Linked DNA regions of Homo sapiens: region 1 is linked to region 2. Evidence: fine-mapped expression QTL. A gene starts in region 2. The other region holds a variant in brackets. All regions are shown on one strand. Distances are from middle to middle.

Region 1 (10,707 bases), 58 kb after region 2:
GCATAGGCTGCAGTGAGCTGAGATGGTGCCATTGCACTCCAGTCTGAGCAACAAGAGGGAAATTTCATCCCCCGTGACCCTCCCCCTGCCCAAAAAAAAGAAAGAAGAGGAAAATCAAGAGTAAATGGTGGCTTAACAGTCATAGGAGGAAAGAATCTCAATAAAGATGATAAACAACATCATGAGTAGAAGAAAGGTCATGTAAGGTAAGGACTAAAACATGTTTGTTGTTTTTAGTAATTAAAGACATTTGCAAGATTGAATTTACTGTAATAGAGATAGAAAAACACAGATATGGTGGTTGACACAGTCCTAAAAAATGGAGTCATGGAGGTAAGTACATACTGCTCTTTGGAGAAACATGGTTGTAAGGTGAACGAAAAACTAAGGTGTACACTAGAAGGAAACAGAGCGACAAAATAGGAGATGCTGAAAGAAAAAGAGAAGTTGAAATACAGAAGAGAAGAGACGCAATGTAAGCTTCCCAAAGAAATGAGAAGATGTGATTCAAAGAACAGATGGTAGGTTTAACATTTGAAATGTAGGACAACAATTTAGCTAAAATAGAAAGGGAAGAGGTAAGGCTGGCTCTGACTATATTTACACTTGTTTGTGTTTTGGGGAGAGAAAGGAAGTGGAGAACGTTCTTGCAAGATGATCTGTATTTTCTCTCTAAAGCAGAGTTCATTTGCTGAGAATGATGGAGAAAATCAGGTTAGTGAAAGTTTGAAAATATTATTGTGGTGAATGACAGAGGAAGTGGATTAGGGATAGTTAGAAGTTTTACTGTGTAGTGTTAATAGCCCAACTGATGTGGGAGACCATAAATTTGTAGTGGCATCAATCCATGTGGTTGTGGAATTTGTTTTTAGCAGTGCTTGGCAGCCAGATATGTGACTGGAAAGGGAGTGATTGGTTGATCCAGGGTTTGAGTTTTGCTAATTAGGTGCAGAAGAAGGACAAAAGGCAAGGGAACTGATGGTAATGGCAAGAGAGATCTCTAAGTAAAATGTCATGAGCTTTATGGGGATTAAGGTTGGTAACCATCACTTAATGCCTACTTTTAGCATGGAACAAGGTTATGTTTTACATAATTTATCTCTAATTCTCACATCAAATATGTAAGGTGGGTATTCCTACTCCCATTTACAAGTGAGGAAAATGAAGCCCAGCTGAAAAATTTAGTGACGCCAGGTGGAGGATGAGAGATTAAGTAAAATCGGAAGGGTGAAGGACTAGAGTCCTTAATGAGATTGAAGAATATTATCAGTGGACCAAAAAGTTGAGGAAGCAGAAAACACATGAGATTGTGGACACAGTGTGGTAATCAAGAAATTAGAAATCTGGAGCTAGATGATTTGGGATATGATATGGACTAGGGTATCCAGACAGAGATATATAAACAATAAGGTTGGAGTGTTGAATATACTGTCCACACAGAAGTGGCAGTTGTCCAAGATTAGTAGAAATAGGAATGAAAGTGGATTGATCTGCTCAAATCTTTGATGAATCTGTCAGGAGTGGTAGAAGTGAAAAAGTGGCAATGGTACAGTAAGTGTAAAGCATGATTTTGCCAGATGTTCTGAACTTTAAGAGAAGTTAAGGTTTAGAAACAGTAACATGAAGTCCCGTTCTTTTTTTTTTTGACGCGGAGTCTGGCCGTGTGGCCAGGCTGGAGTGCAGTGTCACGATCTCGGCTCACTGCAATCTCTGCCTCCCGGGTTCAAGCGATTCCCCTGCCTCAGCGTCCCAAGTAGCTGGGACTACAGGCGCGCATCACTACGCCCGGCTAATTTTTGTTTGTGTTTTAGTAGAGATGGGGTTTTCCAGTGTTGGCCAGGATGGTCTCAATCTCCTGACCTAGTGATCCGCCCACCTCGGCCTCCCAAAGTTCTGGGATTACAGGCGTGAGCCACCGCGCCCAGCCAAAGTCCCATTCTTCTGGCTCCTTCCTTCATGTACATCCTTCTCATTCTTGGTCATCCCCTACTCCCCAAATTCTATGCTTTTCCTATTTATTTTGTGCTGCTTCCAGTCTGATCTAGCCACTTCTCACATCCATCTCTCTATCCATACCTAGACTCCAACATACAGCTCTTCTAAATTGAGCTGTCCATTTCTTTCATTTAGTGGATATTTGAATAATTCCCTTAAAAACGGGGGTGGCCTTGAAAAATCCCACCTCATGTGCTAGAATTCCCTGGAGTTACACTTCCTGATAGAGCTCATGGGTGAATTTGAACATGCTGTGGTTTGAGGACATGAATGAATGGCCACTTTTCAAGGCTCCAGCTCAGTGGTATGGATATTTTATTATGGTGCCTTTGAAGAAATTCTAGCCCAAGAATGCAGACACTCAGAATAGCTTTTTCCCAGGACCTGACTTTGGGGGTTGGGGGCGGGAGTAGCAGCAGCTTCTGGGAATGGCGGGCTGTCCACAGCACCATTGCTTCCTTAGCTCCTTTAGGCACCGTTATCAGCTTCTTAGCTCCTAGTAAGCTTGTGGTCCAATAAAACCTCTGAGGGTTGACTTTTTCCGTGCCAACTGCCATTCATTTCCTTGTATTGTGTGTTTTGTTGTATTTTAACGTAAGCCTATTTTTTCTTTTCTTACTGATTTTATCATTTTGGCCCAGCCTATCATCACACCTGCTATTTTACAGTTTCGACTTTCTCCTCCAAAGTATCAGTTATTTCTGTCAGCACTGTCCTATTTTTTTTTTTTTTTCAAATTCAAGTAGGCATGCTTTCTTTAGCTTCGTCTAAGCTATTGAGATGGGGCTAACAGGGCAAGATGAAGGACAAAGAGATTGACATAGATAATTTTATCAATACTTCTTACATAGGGTTGTTCAATCAGATATGGAGCCATCTAATTGTAGCTGCTTCTCTAAATCTTATACATAAATATATTCAGGGAAGTTCTGTCAAATCTGTTATTTAATTCAATACACATTCTGTAAAACTTCCCTAATCTATTACTTTAAAAACTCTAAAAAGCAAACAAACTAAACCACAACAGAAAAATGGGATTAGTAAGGCAGAGAGCATGATACCTGAGAGGGGTTGTGATCCCATGTGTCCTGTAGTTTTCTCTGATGGTAAAGGCCGGTATTCTAGCTTCTTATCAATAGTTTAACATTATTTTTAGAATTTTATCAGATACCAACACACAACTTTGGTGCAGTCTTCAAAATCCACAATTGTTTCTCAGGGCAAGCCCTGTTATTTAGGCAAAAAGGAAATATGTTTTGAAAATAAATTTTTTTAAATGAGCAGTTTTGGAGGGGTGCTGAAACATAATTGATTTTTTTCAGAAGTATTTACAATACATGTAAGATAATTGCTTTATTTTCTGGCCTTATATAATAAATTTTATGATTTAGAATCTAACTTGAAAGCAAGCATTTCTCTTTTATTGGCTTAGGAGAAGTTGTGAAGATGTGTGATTTTTTTACAGATCATCTGAGTTTCTATAGGACAGAAAACTAGAATTCTATATTTAGTATTGGATCCATACTGTAACCATTACATTAGGTTTCTATTTTTAAGGATTAAATAGTAAGTTAATGGAAACAATATAGCCCTATTTTTGCTTAATATGCTAAGCACAAGATGCTTTATATGAGCAACTGAATACATTAATAAAAAAATCTCATTTTTAATTGAATAGCTGAAATGATGCCAATATGTGAAAGAATTATAAACTGTTACAAAAATAACTGGTTGCATTAAACAGGATTGCATATAGTAGACTGCTGCTGCATGTGTTTGAAAAAGGAAATGCAAATATGGAAATAAATATATGTATTTAATTAAATAAAATATAATTAACAGGTTTAAATTTTTTAAGGGAAATTTTGCTACTAGGCAGTGACGTCAACCTGAGCTATTTTTTTTTCTTGTCAGTGATTTATATTCATGATTCAAATATTGGCTGACAATTTGATCAAGGGGGAGATAAGGCATCCTTAAATTGATATTAATAATATTATCAGACTTGATATTTTACAGCATTTTACATTTTAAAAAGATTCTGACATCTATTTTTATTTTATTTGTAATTTATTTAAAAAATAATGTACAAAAAGTAGAAAGTAATATAGTATACACGAGTTTGGGGCACAGAGTTGAATAGCCAATATTGCCTAAAAGTTGAGAAATTTGACTTAGGTGTTAAGGAGGGCAGCAACCAAGATTGATTTTACATGAAAAAAAAAATCAGTTAAGATGAAGTAGCATTACCAAATGCATTTATATAGAAAAGGATACAGAGAAATAAAGGTGAAGGCAAAAATATCTTACTGAAAATTATGAAGTGATATGGGAAGTCAAGAGAGAAAGTTGGGAAGATGTATTGGGGAAAACAAGTTTGAATGGAAATTCTGTTAAAATTGACATTTATCCCTCACGCTTAATATTTATAGTGGAATTTTAGTTTTATCACAGGTGTGGATAGTTCTACTCTTTGTTAAATTAGAACATTTACTCTTTTTTCTCCTTTGCCTCAGTAGGTTAATGGCTGTAGTCTAATTTCTTCATAAAGCAGACCCAAATAAAACATATGTTGACTCTCTGTAGGCTGTACCTTGAGTTTCCTTCTTACCCACAGATAGAAGCCTTCTCTATTGAGTTGTCTACATTCTGCATCTTCAATTCCCTACCTCTCATTCTTTCTTGGCTCACTGAGACCTGGATTCTGTCCTCAGAACTTTGTTAAAATAAGTTCTAAAAGAACACCATATTGGCAAGTCCTGGGGACACCTGCCAGTCTTCAGATTGATTGATTTTGTTGCAATATTTGATATAATCGTGCCCCATAATGTTTCTATAATGTTGCTTTCTTTATTCTTGACCTGTTTACCTCTGAGTCCATCTTTCTCAGTTCCCTTCATAACTCCCTGTTTCTCTACTCACTCTTTAAATATTGCTAATTGTATTCAATCTTTTTTCTTCTCTTTCACTGAATTCTCCTTAGGCTCACTCACATATGCCCTGTGATTTATTTATTAGATAATTACTTCTAAATCAATATCTCTACCTTTCATACAGTTTAGCCCAGGGACAGACCTATAATATTCCAGACTCCTAGGAGATTATCTCAATTGAATATCTGTCACACACCTCAATCTCAACAAAGCAAATAAACAATCCCACTCTCAGCTGTGGGTGATTCTCTGATTAATGACACTGCTTACCGAGTGAGACATGGGACTCACTTTGCTCCCCTGCTTCTTGCTATTGGTTACATGTTTCATGGCTTCTACCTTCAAATGATCTCTGGTGTCTATTCCCTCCTCTCCTTCATCTTTTTCTGCATTAATTCAGGTTCTTTTTATTTTGAAGTTGACTATACAATTTTATACTCCTATACTTAAAACTGTTACTCATCCGAGTGTTCTTCATTCTTAAAAATCCATCTTTTCATTGTCACCAAAGGCAACTTTTAAGACAAATAGAATTATTTCATTGCTCCTCATAAAAACCTTAACAGACTCATCACTGTTTTCAAGATAAAGTATAGACTCTTTCCCATAACATATAAGGCCATTTATCATCTGTTTCCTGTTCACACTTC[C/G]CAAATCTCTTGCCAGAGAACACAGAAACTACTTGTAATTCCCCAAACTGCATATTCTCATTTATGCCAGGCTTTTCTCATGGCCTGTGATACCCAACCCGACATTCATTTCCTATTTTGTTTCACTGCCAAAGAAGTACTCATGATTGAGGAATTAGCTCACGTTACTAAACACTCATCCTCTCCTGCTCCTGCATCCAAGCCTGAGTTAGGGGCTCATTCCTCTTGACCTCCGCACCAGGAGGCACAGACTTAGGTAAAATACCCTCATAGCATTTGGGTATCTTATGTGTTTCTCCTAGTAGGAAGATTCAAAGACAAGAATTTTATTTTGTGGATTTGTATTATCTGTATCAAGCATGTTGCCTGGTGAACAGTAGATATACTGTAAATACCTATTGATTAAATTAAATATTATAGAAAGATTGATTATTGAAGGAAATATATGTGTATGTATGTGTGTTTACATGATTGTATTTATATATATTTATATATAACAGAAATATCGATATTTCTGTTTCAGAGTGACTTGGAAATTCTATTTTAAGCAAAGCACATACATTTTAATTAGTAGCAATTTACTGGGAACCCAGTACATACTTGGCATGCCACATAGTTTCCTTTAATCTTCACAACTCTATACAGTCTGTAAAAATATTATATTTATTTTATATATGAATATATGGAGAATCAAATAAATTACTTTTCCAAGAGTGCACGGTCAATAATAAAGAGATTTAAATGCAAGTCTTTCTATCTGCAAAGCCTAAAATAGACAGAACTTTTAAAATTTTTATTTGTTGAATTATTGTTTGTTGAAAGAGAGGAAATGACTAATAATGGAAGCCAAAGATGATTCTTTTAAATTTATTACAACTTGTGGCTTGGGTAAATTTGATCTTACTTTCAGCCTTTGCAATATCTGATGAAAGAGGGTCTGGAATTTAGAATATCCTTTATGTAGCCTGCCTGCAACTGGCATTTTGGCTAATCAAAATAAGAAAAAAAGGAATGTTTAGTAAAATGCCTGTTATTTTCAAAAGGAAAATTTTTTAAAAGGAAAACTGAATTCCTCATTTTGCTGGTATAGTTTAGGCCATGTGAGAAACACAATAAATATGTGCCATCAGGAGCAGCCTGTGAGCAGATGAAACTATCTCAGACATAGCTCAGCAGTTTTCCTCTGCCAGACATTACTTCCTATGGAAAGAGAGACAAGTATACTTTTAAAAAACACTTATATGAGATTAAATATCCTTACATATTTATTTGACTAAATGGAAGGCATTTACTGTTCCCCTGATAGTTAACAAGTTTATTTCATTTTATAAAAATAAAGATTTATACATTGGGAACAAGAAATAATTTAGGGTATATACATTTCAAATAATTTATTTTGTCATTATTAGTAGTAGTTATTGTAAATTAGGTATAATGGTTTTTAGGAGGTATTATAATTTACTCATAAGTTACATATATTTCTTTTCTTTTTTTTTTTTTTGAGACAGAGTTTTGCTCTTGTCTCCCAGGCTGGAGTGCAATGGCATAATCTCGACTCACTTCAACCTCCACCTCCTGGGTTCAAGTGATTCTCCTGCCTCAGCCTCCCAATTAGCTGGGCCTACAGGTGCCTGCCACCATGCTCAGCTAATTTTTTGTATTTTTAGTAGAGTTGGGGTTTCACCGTGTTGGCCAGGCTGGTCTGGAACTCCTGTACTCGGGTGATCGATCCACCCACCTCGGCCTCCCAAAGTGCTGGGATTACAGGCGTGAGCCATGGCGCCTGGCTGTAAGTTACATATATTTCTAATGAGTTTTTTTTTTTTCTTGGCATTGGAATACAATGCTTTCTATGTCACCTACAAAAAATCTTACCAGAGCATTACACAAAATAAGAGAAGTAATTCCTAGGGCAATTATCTACATAATAATATTATAGTAAAATTTACTAGGAGCAACTCAAGCATTTGATGTAATTATTTTGTACAGGTAGAGAGCTGGACCAGTTGCTGTTTGCCGATGATAAATGTTAATTGAATGGGATAACTACACATAAGTCGGATGCTGATAGGAAGTGCATGAAACATGGTCTCTGCCATTGCAATGAGAAACAATGGTTGAATGTCATAATCATTATAATATACTCTTACAATGGAAGTATTGTGTTTTTCTGGTACATTATATTGGAGAAATTGGTTTCCCAAGACAGAAAGAAGATTTTTATGTAACAGGACAGTAATAATTAGACCTAAATATAAACCATTTTCATATCTAAATTAACTGCTTGGTGACTGAGTGCTAGTTTCAAACAGTAGAAAACAAGGGAATTAAAATATAACTAAGAAGATAAGCCCAACTTGCAAAAAGCCATTATGGACAGACAGTATTCCATTCTTTGGATTTTAAAGTAAAATCAGTAAGTCTTTGATTTGTTTTTGGTTAATAATGGAAAGCATTTTCCAAACTAAAAGAAAATGAAATTAATACTTTATTAATGGTGCTAAGAAAAGCTAGCACTCCCTCTCACCCCACTCCTAGCAAAGCTTTGCCTCCAGATGTTATTTTGTATTTATTTTGCAATGTTTATTATGGCAGTCCAAGATGTTTATGTCTTAAAGATACATTGGTCAGTTTATTTACAGAGAGACAGCTTCTTGAAGTGAAGGCAGTTTACTTTGGGTGTGGGTTAAGCTACATAGCACTAGAGAGAATGGGTGTGACTGGTTTCCTCTTGTGTGTTCTCTTATTATTTCTTTCGTTTCTTTTCATTACAAGCGCTTCTCTCTCTCTTTTTTTAATCCTGTAAGGTTTTATATGATTTGTCCTGTGAGAAATAGTTGAGTTTTTCTGAGCAGTTACCCTGTACAGGAAATGAAAGAAACACAAGGCAGAATGGATGACAGGGCCTTGACACCTTTGCTTACCACCTTTGCCTCCTGTCAAAGGTGACACTGGAATAGCTGGAGACCTTCTCAAGGCACTCAGGATAGAGAGCAGTCTGTAGTATTTGACAGAATCACTGATATTTCTCAGGCAAGGCTTAGGATTGACTAACGGGAGAGAAGGGAGGCAGTAGGTGCTTGTGTTTGTGCAGTAGGACTGGACCAAGGATTTTGAAAGATTCTGTCGTTCCTTTTTTTAATGTATTGCAAACTAACACAGAATTAAATTGTAAAACCAGTATAAGAAAGTTCAACCAAGTTCTCACTTTTCTCATTATGACTATTTCAATGCCATTTCAGTAATATTGAATAACATTTATTTGAAACATTGCTTTGTAATATAAAAACAACATTTTTAAAGTTGTTTTTTCTTACTTCTGCTTTGTTGAGTTCATCAGAGTGTACTAACACTCTGATGGGAAATCCAATTTGTGGAAGTGCAAGGACATGACAAAAGAGAAGCTGGCAATGTGATATTTGGTGAAGGCTGGAGAAGGGCTGAGACATGTTTTGGTTAGGACTGGTGTGGCGTCTTCATACCCATAATGTAGTATTTTGCAGGAAGAGTGAAGCTTCATCTTGCAAATTAGAATATATAGGGAATTCCACTTTTAATTATTTTCCTCCACTTTAGCATTATTTTTCTTTCCATGCTTTAAGGAGTGATTTGGGCATAGATTTGTTTTCTGAAGTATTCTCAATACACTTTTAACTTAATATTTAAGTCTTGTATGTTTCAAGTGATACAAGGGAAAAGCAGGACCATCTGCTGCTTTTTCTTTGTGGATCTGAAATAATCTTACACCTCTTAAAGAGACATTTTGTAAACACTGCCTGTGGCTAGCCCTTATAACTGGCTACTTCAGTTAAAATGATTCTCAAAGGTATAGTTTATTTTATTTAATTTTAGTCATTTGAAAATAATGACTAAATACTGCTTGAGTGGCAGATCAAGACATTAATTTTGCTGGCCAGTTCAGTAGTTCAGTTATGATCATTGTTACAGATAAAAGAGTTTTCCTTCAAATTGATAATTAAATCACCCAATCTCGGTGAAGCTATACTTAGATAACTATCTGTATTTTCACATTTTCTGGATCTTTTTTGGTATCAAAACATACAAAGTTGCATAACTATAAAAGCACTAATATGTTTTATATCATTTTTACAGAATGGAAAACATCAATATTTATTGTGGATGCCAGGCTTGGTATATCAATTATTACAAAATCATACAAGGCTTTTAACCTCCATCTAGAAACCTGATAGAAAATTTTAGGAGAATGTTATGTCACCTATACATATGAAAATTGTCTAATCTGATAGCTCTACTGGTACAGCAAAGCACTGTTGCTAATTTCCTAATGGCAGAATCTATAGGTTGATTGATTATTTATTTAAAAGATACTTTATTAATGGATGGAAAGGGCATCTGCTGACTATTTTCATGTTTCATGTTTTATATTCCTGTCCCAAAGTGACTACATTAAACCTGAAACAAGTGATTTTTTTACACAGTCATTTCTCTTTATGCTTATTAATTTCTAATTATTCTTTGCTTGTCAATATAGTGTTAATTTATCCATTATCTAATTGACTGGTTTCTTTTGGGGGTGAAAGGGGTGGAGGCAAGGAAACTGATATAGGCCCTGAATTTCAAATTGCTTAGGCTTGCAAGGATGTTTATGGCCAAACAATCTATTTTGACAATTGTGGAAAGGATAATTCTCATAATAAATTTGAGAATTCTAGAGATACTAGAACAGCACATTCTAATGGTCTCTTCTGTTCTAGAAATAATACCATTTTGGATTTAATTGGATCATCTGGATATTCAAATAAAACTCTATTCTCTTGACCCTTTCACATGTACATATTAAGCTATCCTTTAAATATTCCATAGTTAACAAGTGGAATTGTTGGTTTACCACAATAATTCATTTCCCCCCCTAAAATTCCAACATTAAAAGGAGACTGGCAATCAAGAAAGCTAGAACTTATTTGCATGAAACTGACTCACTTTCCTAAATTGACTCTGCATGTCTATGTCTTTTTTGGAATCATAAATTATTCTCACTGCTGGTTTGGATAAAACTAAAATCTATTTTCCTGTAGCATTTGGTGTGTTCATAAAGTGAGTCATAATCATTTTTTTTTTACTATGGGAAAAAGATCAGTAAGGGTGAA
Region 2 (10,707 bases):
GTCAAAATTCCATGTAAACTTTTGAGTTTCCAAAAACTTAACTACTAATAGTCTACTATTGCCTGGAAGCTTTACTGATAACATAAACAGTGGATTAATATATGTTTTGTATGTTGTATTATATATTGTTTTCTTGCAATAAACTAAAAAAAAGAAAACATTATTTAAAAAATCGTAAGGAGGCCAGGTGCGGTGGCTCACGCCTGTAATCTTAGCACTTTGGGAAGCTGAGGCAGGAAGATCATGAGGTCAAGAGATCAATACCATCCTGGCCAACATGGTGAAACCCCGTCTCTACTAAAAATACAAAAATTAGCTGGGCATGGTGGCGCACACCTGTAGTCCCAGCTAATTGGGAGGCTGAGGCAGGAGAATCTCTTGAATCTGGGAGGTGGAGGTTGCAGTGAGCCAAGATCGCACCACTGCACTCCAGCCTAATGACAGAGCAAGACTCCATCTCAAAAAAAAAAAAAATCATAAGGAAGAAAAATATGTTTACATTCATTAAGTAGAAATGGATCATCATAAAGGCCTTCATCTTTTTCAGGAGGACGAGAAAGAAACATTGGTTTTGCTCTCTCAGGGGTGGCAGGGGCAGAAAAAAAAAGTATTGTATAAGTGGAACTACACGGTTCAAACCTTTGTTCAATGGTCAACTATAATTTCAACTGGGCACAAAATAGGGCATACATGTAATACTTATAACAATCATGTGAAGAAGCCCTCAGAAAACTCCCACATTATTTGAAACCAAAGTTTTTTTAAAGTTGGAGGAGAAGGGATGCTTTTATTTTAACCAATAGGGGGATGTAAAACAGAACAGTATGATTTCAACTACAGGCCAGAATTAATTTGCCAAACATAAATAACTCAAACATACATAATTCCTACTGGAATGAATGACCTGTAAATTTTACACCAAACTTAATATGATGATGTATGAAGAAGGTAACATAAAAAAAAGAAAAAGTCTAAAACCAAATTAGATACTTTGCCCCTAACAATTCTGGAGGAAAAAAACAGTGACAGGTAAAACTTAAAAATACACAAAGGGGTTTAGGGATTATCAATGAATTTAAATCTTGACCCATTCAAATAAGTGAAAAATAAATACAACTAAAAATGAAGTAATATTGTACCATTTATAATTTGTAACAACTCAAAATACTCATACTCCCACTTTTCAAGTCAGTCACAAGATCAAAGTCAAGAGTTTTTTTCAGGTAATAGATTCAAGCAAGCGATTATCTTTAATCAAAGAAAAAGATGAGCATATAACATCAATATAAATACATATAAAAACAAAGACAAATATCAATTATAAATATTTGAAGACTTACTGTATTTTTCTAATTATTAACAGCTAATGTTTAATAAGATTTTTGCCATTTATTCAAAATACACAAAACAGTAAATGTTCTACATGAAATCACTCAGTGACAGAAAGAAAAAATACTTGAAATGTTCCAACTTTTGGTACACAACTCAAAAAAAATTATATATACATAAAAGGAGTAGATAAATCAGGTGTGAGTTAGCAGACACATCTTAGTATTTTTTATAAACCAGTCACAAATTGAGAGATGTAACTAAATGCCCTAATGTCTCAATTTTTAGCCCTCATCATCTCCTGCTAAAAATTAGCTAAGAAAAAGCATAGGTCATACTTGGAAACTTCAGACAAAACTCATTTCAACTAAATGGGGTCTGATACTTTAAAGAATTATTTCCCTTTAAGACGTTACTATGTGGCAGTCTACTTACTGCCTTCACAATCTTTATACTAGCCCATTAAACCCTTTAATTTTTCTCAAAACAACAAAAAAGTGAGCTTTGCATTTTATTTCAAAACATGAGATGTAAAAGTGAACGAATATTGTCTTTTAATCATATCACACACAGATGTTTCTTAGCCAGCAACCATTTCATAAATAAGAAAGCTCTTTGGCAAATTATCTGTGTGACCTTGGTCAAGTCATAACCCCCAGTCTTTTGTTATCTCATCCTACTCTATAATTCTGTAATTCTAAGTTCTAAATGCTTTAATTAGCAGTCCGTTAACAACATTTTGGATTTGAATTAACCCAAAAGGTAACACGCCATGAAAACTAAAGATAGTCCGTAAGTAAGCACAGGTGGTTGTAGCCAAGTGTTACATAAATTAGTTTCTATATCCACAAAGATGTTGTTTCACAAATTCAGATTCCTCAGGCACAAGGCAACCAAGAGAATGGAAAAGGCTCAGTACCTTCTATTACTAACACGGGAGAAAAATACGCATTCGAATTCCCAACTGTCAGTGCTGTTAGATGTTTCCTGGTAGTATATGGTTAACATATAAAATAATATTCTTTAAAAAGATCGATATTGTGAAAACAAAAGATTTAATATCCTTTTCTTCTTTTGACTCAAAATATCGTTTTGGATCCTTTAAAAAAAAAAGTCTGTTCCTTTCCTCTGACAAGTTAGGTTGGTGGAGACTGAAACAAAACACTTTGTAAGTTGACATCTCCTTTTAAAAGAAGTTATTTCTTTTTTCTTCTCTTGTCTAAAAGACCAGCTATTTGGAGAGAGTTTTCCTGATAATTATAATTCTACCAAGTTCTGAACAACCAGCGAAGAAAAAAAATATTTAAATGTATTTCCAGTCTGCCCACATGATACACTGGCTCATTTGAGACATAAATTCTAAATGAAAGATTGGGCTGAACAACATCCTCCACTTTAAGATATACAAGGCACCAAAACAAACACATCCAAAATCTATTTTTAGAGTGGTGTTCACTCTTCCGGTTTTCTCTTTAAAACGAGATTTAGTTGACCTATTTTCATGTGTTTTTAGGGCACCCAGACACTCTATACAAACAATATTTGCTAATCATAAAACAGCAAAGCCAAAATCACAAATCCTGTTATCTGTGTGGGACATTTTCTCCACGTGTCCTTACGTGCCATGTCTTTGAAAAGTCTAAATATAGATTCACTGACTAAAATGTCCTAAGTCTTCCAAATTCTATAATTATATACTGGATTGAATGCCAATATTATACGTTCACATCCCATTTGAAAAGTACACACACGAGGTGGGGGGGATGTGCCCACTACCTGAAATGCCAATCATACAAAGAACAAAGCGTACCCTATCATCTTTGGGCTTTCTTCTCTCCTCAGTTCTACACTGTTTCGATATTACAAAAATATTAAACAAAATGTTCAAAACTTGAGAAATAAGTGCTCACTAAAATGGCACTTAGAGAAAATAAATTAAAACATATACCAATATGATTAACGAGAAAAGATTCTAGTTGCCAGGATGTGTGTGTAAACTTACAGTCCTGTAGGTTTTACCTGTGGAGAGGACGGTTCCGTCTCCACTCTTAAAACAATTTTACATTCTTTAGAAGCCTTAGCAAAATAAATAGCGACAACAATGGAAGACCCACACTCCTTCAGACGGGATGGAGGGTAGGAAGAGAACTCCCCACCCAACAATCAGAACAAAGCAACAGCCTCAGCTTTTAAGATGCAGAGGGTTTGGAGGCTCAAGGGATATTCTGAGATCTCTTAATTGTTCCGATGCTTCAACAGCCGTCAAAAACAACTAAGAATATGCAGCGCTGGGCTTCACTAGGACAAGGTGCAGGGATTGCTCTCTTCGTTTTAGGCAAGACCGAGACACTGAGCAGGAGAAAAAAAAGGAGGAAGAGCGAGAGAAGAGAAAGCAGCAGCCAGAGACACTCCGGGAAAAGGCAAAAATGCAGACTGTACGCCCTGGCTTCGATCTGACCCAAGGCCCAAACTGTCTGACCCCACACGGGAAAACATGGAGCAGGCTACCGCCGAAAAACCATCGCCGCCCCTACACCTCGAGGCCAGAAGGTCCCCGGGTAAAGGCCTAAAACCACGGCCCAGAGGGGAGGAGAGGGACCCGCCTGCCACCCGAGGCAGCGAAGCGGGCTCAGGCGGAAGAGGCTGCGCAGTAATGGCCGCTGCTCCGCCCCTCGCACCCGGACCGAGACCAGCTCCGGCCGTCACCCAGGGCAGGGGCTGCGGCGCCCTCGGGCAGCGCAGGGGCTGTCACGGTCGTCTTGCCTGCCCCAGCAGCCAAGGCGGGGGTGGCGGAAAGGGCTGAACTGTCCCATCCCGCCTCTGCGCGGACAGCCGGGGCCGCGCCAGCCCAAGGGCGTCCATCTACGTACCGGCCCCTGACCCCGCCGCCGCCCCTCTCAGGCCCCGAGCGCAAGGCCGACCCGGAGTACGTTGCGGCTGGAGGTGACACCGCGAGCTATGCCTCCTCTCCCCGAGTGAGGATCCTAGAGTGGCCGGCGTTCACCCTGCTCCCCCGAGAGGGCCTCGCTCCGACTCCCACCTCTCCGGCCACAGCTGCGGCCACCTCGCAGTCTTTTCTCTCTGGCCTCGGAGCCCGCAGCTGCCGGGAACGCGCGCGGCCGTCACGTGACCACCCGGCGCGTCGCGGAGGAGGGGCCGCGACGCGCCGCGCACCCGCACCCGCACCGGCGAGCTAACTCCGGCGCCTCATCGTTCTGCCCCTGTCTCGCGCCGCTGTCTGCCGGTACTCTCTTGCCTGTGGGGAGCGGCGACTTCGCTGCTTGCATTCTTCTGGCTTCTTTAGAGTGTGCTTGCTTTGTATTAGGGCCCAGAGGCTCTGAAAGAGTGCAGTTCCAACAGAAAGAGATTTGGGGTGGAGGAAGTAAAACGTGTGTAGGACCAGCAGGTGGTGCTGCTCAAAAATCCAGCTTTGCTATCCTGAGGAAGCTCTGGGGCGCCTAGCTGAGTTTCGGCTTAAAGATCCCTTAGCAAAAGTACTGCTTGTTCCCTTTCAAGAAAAAAAATGGGGAGGGGGGGGACGGAGGGGAGAGAGTACTGTAGGACTTTCCAATTTGTTCTCCTTTTTAATGGTTGAGCAATTTAATCGGGGAAAAAATGAGTATTAGTTTTCTTTTGAAACCCCACCCTTTTTTTAAAAAAAACAGAATAGTGCCTGAGAAACTGAAGAAATTAATCTGCATGATAATCTAAAATTAAAGAGGTTATTTTGATCGCAAGCCTGTGGTTTTAAACATCAGAACTCTAGCAGTAATTCACCATTTTAGCATGTACATTTCCTTTTTCAGAACTGATTAAATTTTCCTAATTTGTAGGAAAATGAAGAGGGTGGAAGAGCAGACCTTTTATCTTTAGAAGAGTATGTATTTCAACATTCTATGACAGCGTCTTCTCATTTGCATTAGTGTTGCATTTTGGGATTTCATTAACTGTTTGATTCAGGATTGGAAGTTTTCAGTGTCCTTATAGGTATAGAAATGTATATGTTTTCTGTTATTCCTCTGAAATCAGTTTATTTCAGGGTTCTCATTCATATATATCAATATGTAACCCAATCTCTTGAAGGGTGCATCTAGTTCAGTGATGCTTGCGCGTGTATGCAATACTGTTCCATACATGTAGAAATATTGAAGTGTATATCCTTTAACTTTAAGCTTAGTTTTCTATCTTTATCTTCTTATTAGCCACTCAGTTTTGTCCCTCTATCCTACACAGCCCATGAACAGAGAATAGCTAAAATTTGATATGTACTCGAAGATTCCAGCTTGAAGAGGTAATGCTAATATTAACTAACAATGTGCCAGGTGTTGCTCTAAGTGCTTTATTCATATATACCCACTTAATTCTCATAATAAACTATGAGGTAGGCACTATTATTATTCCCATTTTACAGAGAGAGAGACACACACAGCTGAGATTTGAATCCAGGCACAGACTGTAAGATGTCAGCTAGTTCAACCCCTTCTCACTCATACCCAAGGTCTTTGTATTTCAGTAAATGGTTGCATCTTTCCTTGTTCAAACCCACCTTTAACTCCTCTCTTTTATGTCTTATATGCATTTGGCATATAACCTGTTGGCTCTTCCTTCAAAGTATATCCAACTACTTACCACCTCCGCTACAATCTGCATCATCTCTTGTTTGGATTATAGTGTTACGGTAGACCAGGAACTAGTCTTTTGACTCTATCCTTAATACAGAATCCTAAATAAATCTACTTAAAAAGAAGTGAGATCGTACCACTCCTTTGCTCAAAGTCTCCTGTGGCTTCCCAACACAAGTAAAAACCAAAGTCCTAACGATGGCTTTAAAATCCTCCCCTCATTACCTCTTTGACCCCACAGACTGTTTACCCAGCTTTGTATTCCCAGAAAGCTCTCCACAAGCTGCCAACCTCATAGTCTTTGCAGTTGTGGTTTCCTCTGCTTAGAACACTCTTCCCCATCATGCTCCCTCCATATGTGCTCAGATGTCCAACTCTTCAGTCAGTCCCTCTACTTGTCAGCATATTTTAAGTCATGATGTTTCCATTCCCAATATTTCATATTTCCTCCTTTACTTTTTAATACTTATCACAGTGTAATGGATAATTTATTTTACTTACTAATCTTCATCATATTTCTCATCACATTAGGACGCAAGACACAGGAGGCCAGGAATGTGTGTTCTGTTTTGTATCTCAACTGCCAGGAATAGTGCCTGACACACTTAAAGAGGTTCTCTGTAAATATGTGTTACATGAATGAGTAAATGAATGAATGAATGAATGAATACACACATGGCCGGGCAGTAGCTCACGCCTGTAATCCCAGGACTTTAGGAGGCCGAAGTGGGCGGATCACGAGGTCAGTAGATCAAGACCACCGTGGCTAACACAGTGAAACCCTGTCTCTACTAAAAACACAAAAAAATTAGCTGGGCATGGTGGCACGCGCCTGTAATCCCAGCTACTCGGGAGGCTGAGGCAGGAGAATCGCTTGAACCTGGGAGGCGGAAGTTGCCCGAGATCGTGTCACTGCACTCCAGCCTGCACTGCAACAGAGCAAGACTCCGTCTCAAAAAAACCCCAAAAACCACATTTGTGTATGTGAGTGTGTATATATATCCCCATTTATATATATATATGAATATATATATATCTCCATTTATATATATATATGAATATATCCCCATTTGTATATATATATGAATAAAAGTGAACTTCTCATTTTTCAGTAGTTGCATATGAAAAGCAGAATTGAATGCATGGAATACTATACACCCTACCTCCATCAGCCACTTGAAAGAAAGATAGAAGTTTATATCTTTGAATAACACAGGACAGCACCTCTCAACATTGTCAGAGTGCTGGTTTCCAGTAATTAAGAGTAACTGGTTTCCAGTAATTTTAAGTACCAAAACTTCAAATTATTTGCTTAAATAAATCAGAGCCTAACAGTTTCAATGTATTTCTGTAATAATGTTACTGTCACTGGGATTCCATTTTGCTTCATTGAATCAAAGGTAAAGAAGTTGCAGCTGACTGCTAGGAATTACCCAGTTGCCTGTTTGCTTATAGCTTATTGTCTATTTCCCACAACTTACAAAATACTTTGCTGAATACCACACATCTCCAGGCACCTACTCTTCTCCATTTATCCTTCCAACACTCAAAAATTGTCCAATGTTATTTGTTTTACTTAAGGATCAAAGCATTTTTTTTTGTTTACTTAATATCTGAAGACATCCATGAAAATGCATGAGAAAATGATGTGTTACAATAGAATGTACGTTGAAACCACTCGTGGCTAGTTTAGGGCGGCGGTGTTCCAAGTGTTATCTAGTGACCCATAGGGGTCCTTTGACTCTTGCAGAGTGTCTGAGGGAAAATTGTTCTTATAATAATACTAAGACTCTAGTTGCTTTGTTTACTTGCACTCTCAAATGTACAGTGGAGTTTTCCAGAAGCTACATGGTATGTGATGTAGCAATAGATTGATTATAGAAGCAGATATGAGAATTTGACTATATCTATTAAACCAGTCATTAAAACGATGTAAAAAAAAAAAAAAAGTAAAACTGCACTCTTCTTTCATTCAGTTAGCTTTGTTTTGGAAAATGTAGTGTTTTTTTTTTTAATAAAGTATGTTAATACAATGAGTCATTTTTAAATGAATTAGTATATATTGTAAACCATTCTCAATTTCAACTTTTAATTTGGTAAATATTGATTAGCTCATAAAAGTTTTTTGGGGTCTTCTATAAATTAGCACTGTCAAAGGGTCCTGAGACCAAATAAGAATGCTTGTCTGGGGCTATTTTGCTTACCAACTCTAAGTTAAATTTCTTCCCTTTTCACATGCCGGCAACCATCTGATAGCTGTGGACACAACTTTCTCATATGCCTGGAAACAGAACAAACCAGATTCAGGAATGTACCAGTCATTATAGCTAGCAGATGAATGGAAATCAAACCAAGAGGAAGCTTTGGAAAGCAAACTTTGTTTATTTTAATTAAAAACTTTGTTTCCAGAGCTGATACATAGGTTGGTTTCTGTCCTATCATTTGATGTTCTACTTACAGTAATCAAACAGTATATTATTTTCTAGTAGAACTCCTTTGCAAATAATAGTACACTAGCCAGTTTAGCTTGTGTTTTTCTTTTACCTACTGTGATTATCAATGCTTTCTCTTCTAATGGTTCTTAATGTTCCTGCGTTGCCCACAGACATTACAACTGAATTAGGATAATGTATGGCTAGAAAATAGCCCCAAGAGTCACTGAGTTAAACTTTATAGTTTGACTATAAAGTCAACGATGCATTTATTTCCTAACCTGGTTGTATGTATATAATATGTATTTATTAATTTTTAGATGTCTTATATTGACAGTAGTAGCTCTGATGTCTCCAAAGTCCATGCTTGTTTCATTAAATGACATAACCTTTCATTGACCATAGTATTAAAAGATAAGAATAAATGCTGTATTTTAACAGTGGAGGTTTTTTAAGCTAGCTTATTATTTTAACAAAATAGTCCCTTAAACAATGTACTCCATCACATAAAGGAAATTGCTTAAGGTCATCAAGGCAGCAACTATGTTTTGCAATGTCACATTTTCCTGTATCAGTTTAATATAATTATAACCTAAAAGTTTGAAGTATTTTCACAGAAGTTTGTCAAGCAAGATTCTCTTTGGAAAACAAAAACCACCTTAAGTATTTCAGACAGAGACTCTAATGTAGTGAAATGGTGGTGAAAGTGTTAGAAAACTGGAGGAACCAAAAAAGAAAGATGAAGATACCTTGAAATCAGTAACTGCAGAAAGTCACTGGCTCATCTAAGTTTGGAGGAGCAAAGGGTGTTCTGGGAGCTCCTGGAGGCTGCTAGAGCACTTTTTATGAACTGCTATAATAGGAAGTCAGGGTCCCATATGCACACTGAGCCTGCAGAAGTCCAGGAACTCACAGCCATAAGCAGTCACCTACCACTCCAATGTCAGAACCAGAAACGAATAGGAAAGAAATCACCTTCTCCTTTCCACTTACTTTTTCCATGTGATTGCCTTCAATTGACAAAACTAAACAAGAAACCATCTGTCAAAGGATTCTCAAAAACAACTTTTTCCAGCTCCATTAGATATAAAGCAGAACATAGAAATGCCATTGTGAGACTGGGCATCAAATATGTGGTTCAAAAAGTTTGAAAAATGATTTATTATATTGCTCAAGGTGATATATATTCTGAAATATGGAAAGAACTAGAATAATTGATTGCCTATTATTTTCTAAGCTCTTAACAAACCATTTTTTTCACCATAATGATCCAGGTCCACGAATATCTTTTCATCATTGTTCTATGAGACAACTGCAACTCATTGAGGTTACCAGTGTTCACAGGTAGCCCAGAGTAGAACCACGGTGAAGAGAGAGAGACCAGCTGAGGGGAATATGGACATGCATCAGTAAAGGTTCAGTAAAGACACGATGAGTCCTAGGATCAGGAGCGCCATAAACTAATTCGGGCATGCTACTTACTGTATCCAAATGTCAATTTTTTTATATGTAGCCATAAAACGGGTAAATTATCACCTCTATTCAGAGATTTGATAATGAAATTTAAGATAAAGTACTTGGCCAAGGTTGAAAAACCTTAGCTATTACAATTACATTATTTGACCTGTCTCAAATTCTGAGCTAGTTCCGCCAGAGCCTCTCATTCAGTCTACTAGAAAGCATAAGAATAAATACCTATAATTTCATAACTTCTATTGTCTTTTGGCAAAAACTGATAAATTATTTTCTTTTTCTGTTTTATAGAGTCTATATATATATATTTTTATACTTTAAGTTCTAGGGTGCATGTGCACAACGTGCAGGTTTGTTATATAGGTATACATGTGCCATGTTGGTTTGTTGCACCCATTAACTCGTCATTTACATTAGGTATTTCTCCTAATGCTATCCCTCCCCCAACCACCACCCTACAACAGGGCCCAGTGTGTGATGTTCCCTACCCTGTGTCCAAGTGTTCTCATTGTTCAATTCCCACCTATGAGTGAGAACATGCGGTGTTTGGTTTTCTGTCCTTGTGCTAGTTTGCTCAGAATGATGGTTTCCAGCTTCATCCATGGCCCTGCAAAGGACATGAACTCATCCTTTTTTAGGGCTGCACAGTATTCCATGGTGTATATGTGCCACATTTACTTAATGCAGACTATCATTGATGGACATTTGGGTTGGTTCCAAGTCTTTGCTATTGTGAACAGTGCTGCAGTGAACATACGTGTGCATGTCTTTATAGTAGCATGATTTATCATCCTTTGGGTATACACCCAGTAATGGGATCGCTGGGTCAAATGGTATTTCTAGTTCTAGAT

What was found. PIP is the estimated chance that this variant, and not a neighbour inherited with it, causes the effect.
Region 1: its variant is the best candidate, but not a certain one, in a credible set for the expression of RNF146 in spleen (GTEx, PIP 0.86).

The regions. Positions count from the first base shown.
Region 1 is chr6:127,202,740-127,213,446 of GRCh38, reverse strand. It overlaps LOC105377989 (a long non-coding RNA gene), which reads left to right and starts at 603. Exons shown (of 14, transcript XR_002956387.2): 1 at 603-714. The variant C/G (reference allele first, on the strand shown) is at 5,579.
Region 2 is chr6:127,260,588-127,271,294 of GRCh38, reverse strand. It overlaps RNF146 (ring finger protein 146), which reads right to left and starts at 4,431. Exons shown (of 3, transcript NM_001242850.2): 1 at 4,370-4,431. RefSeq lists an enhancer at 3,743-3,802 and silencers at 4,003-4,272, 4,373-4,472.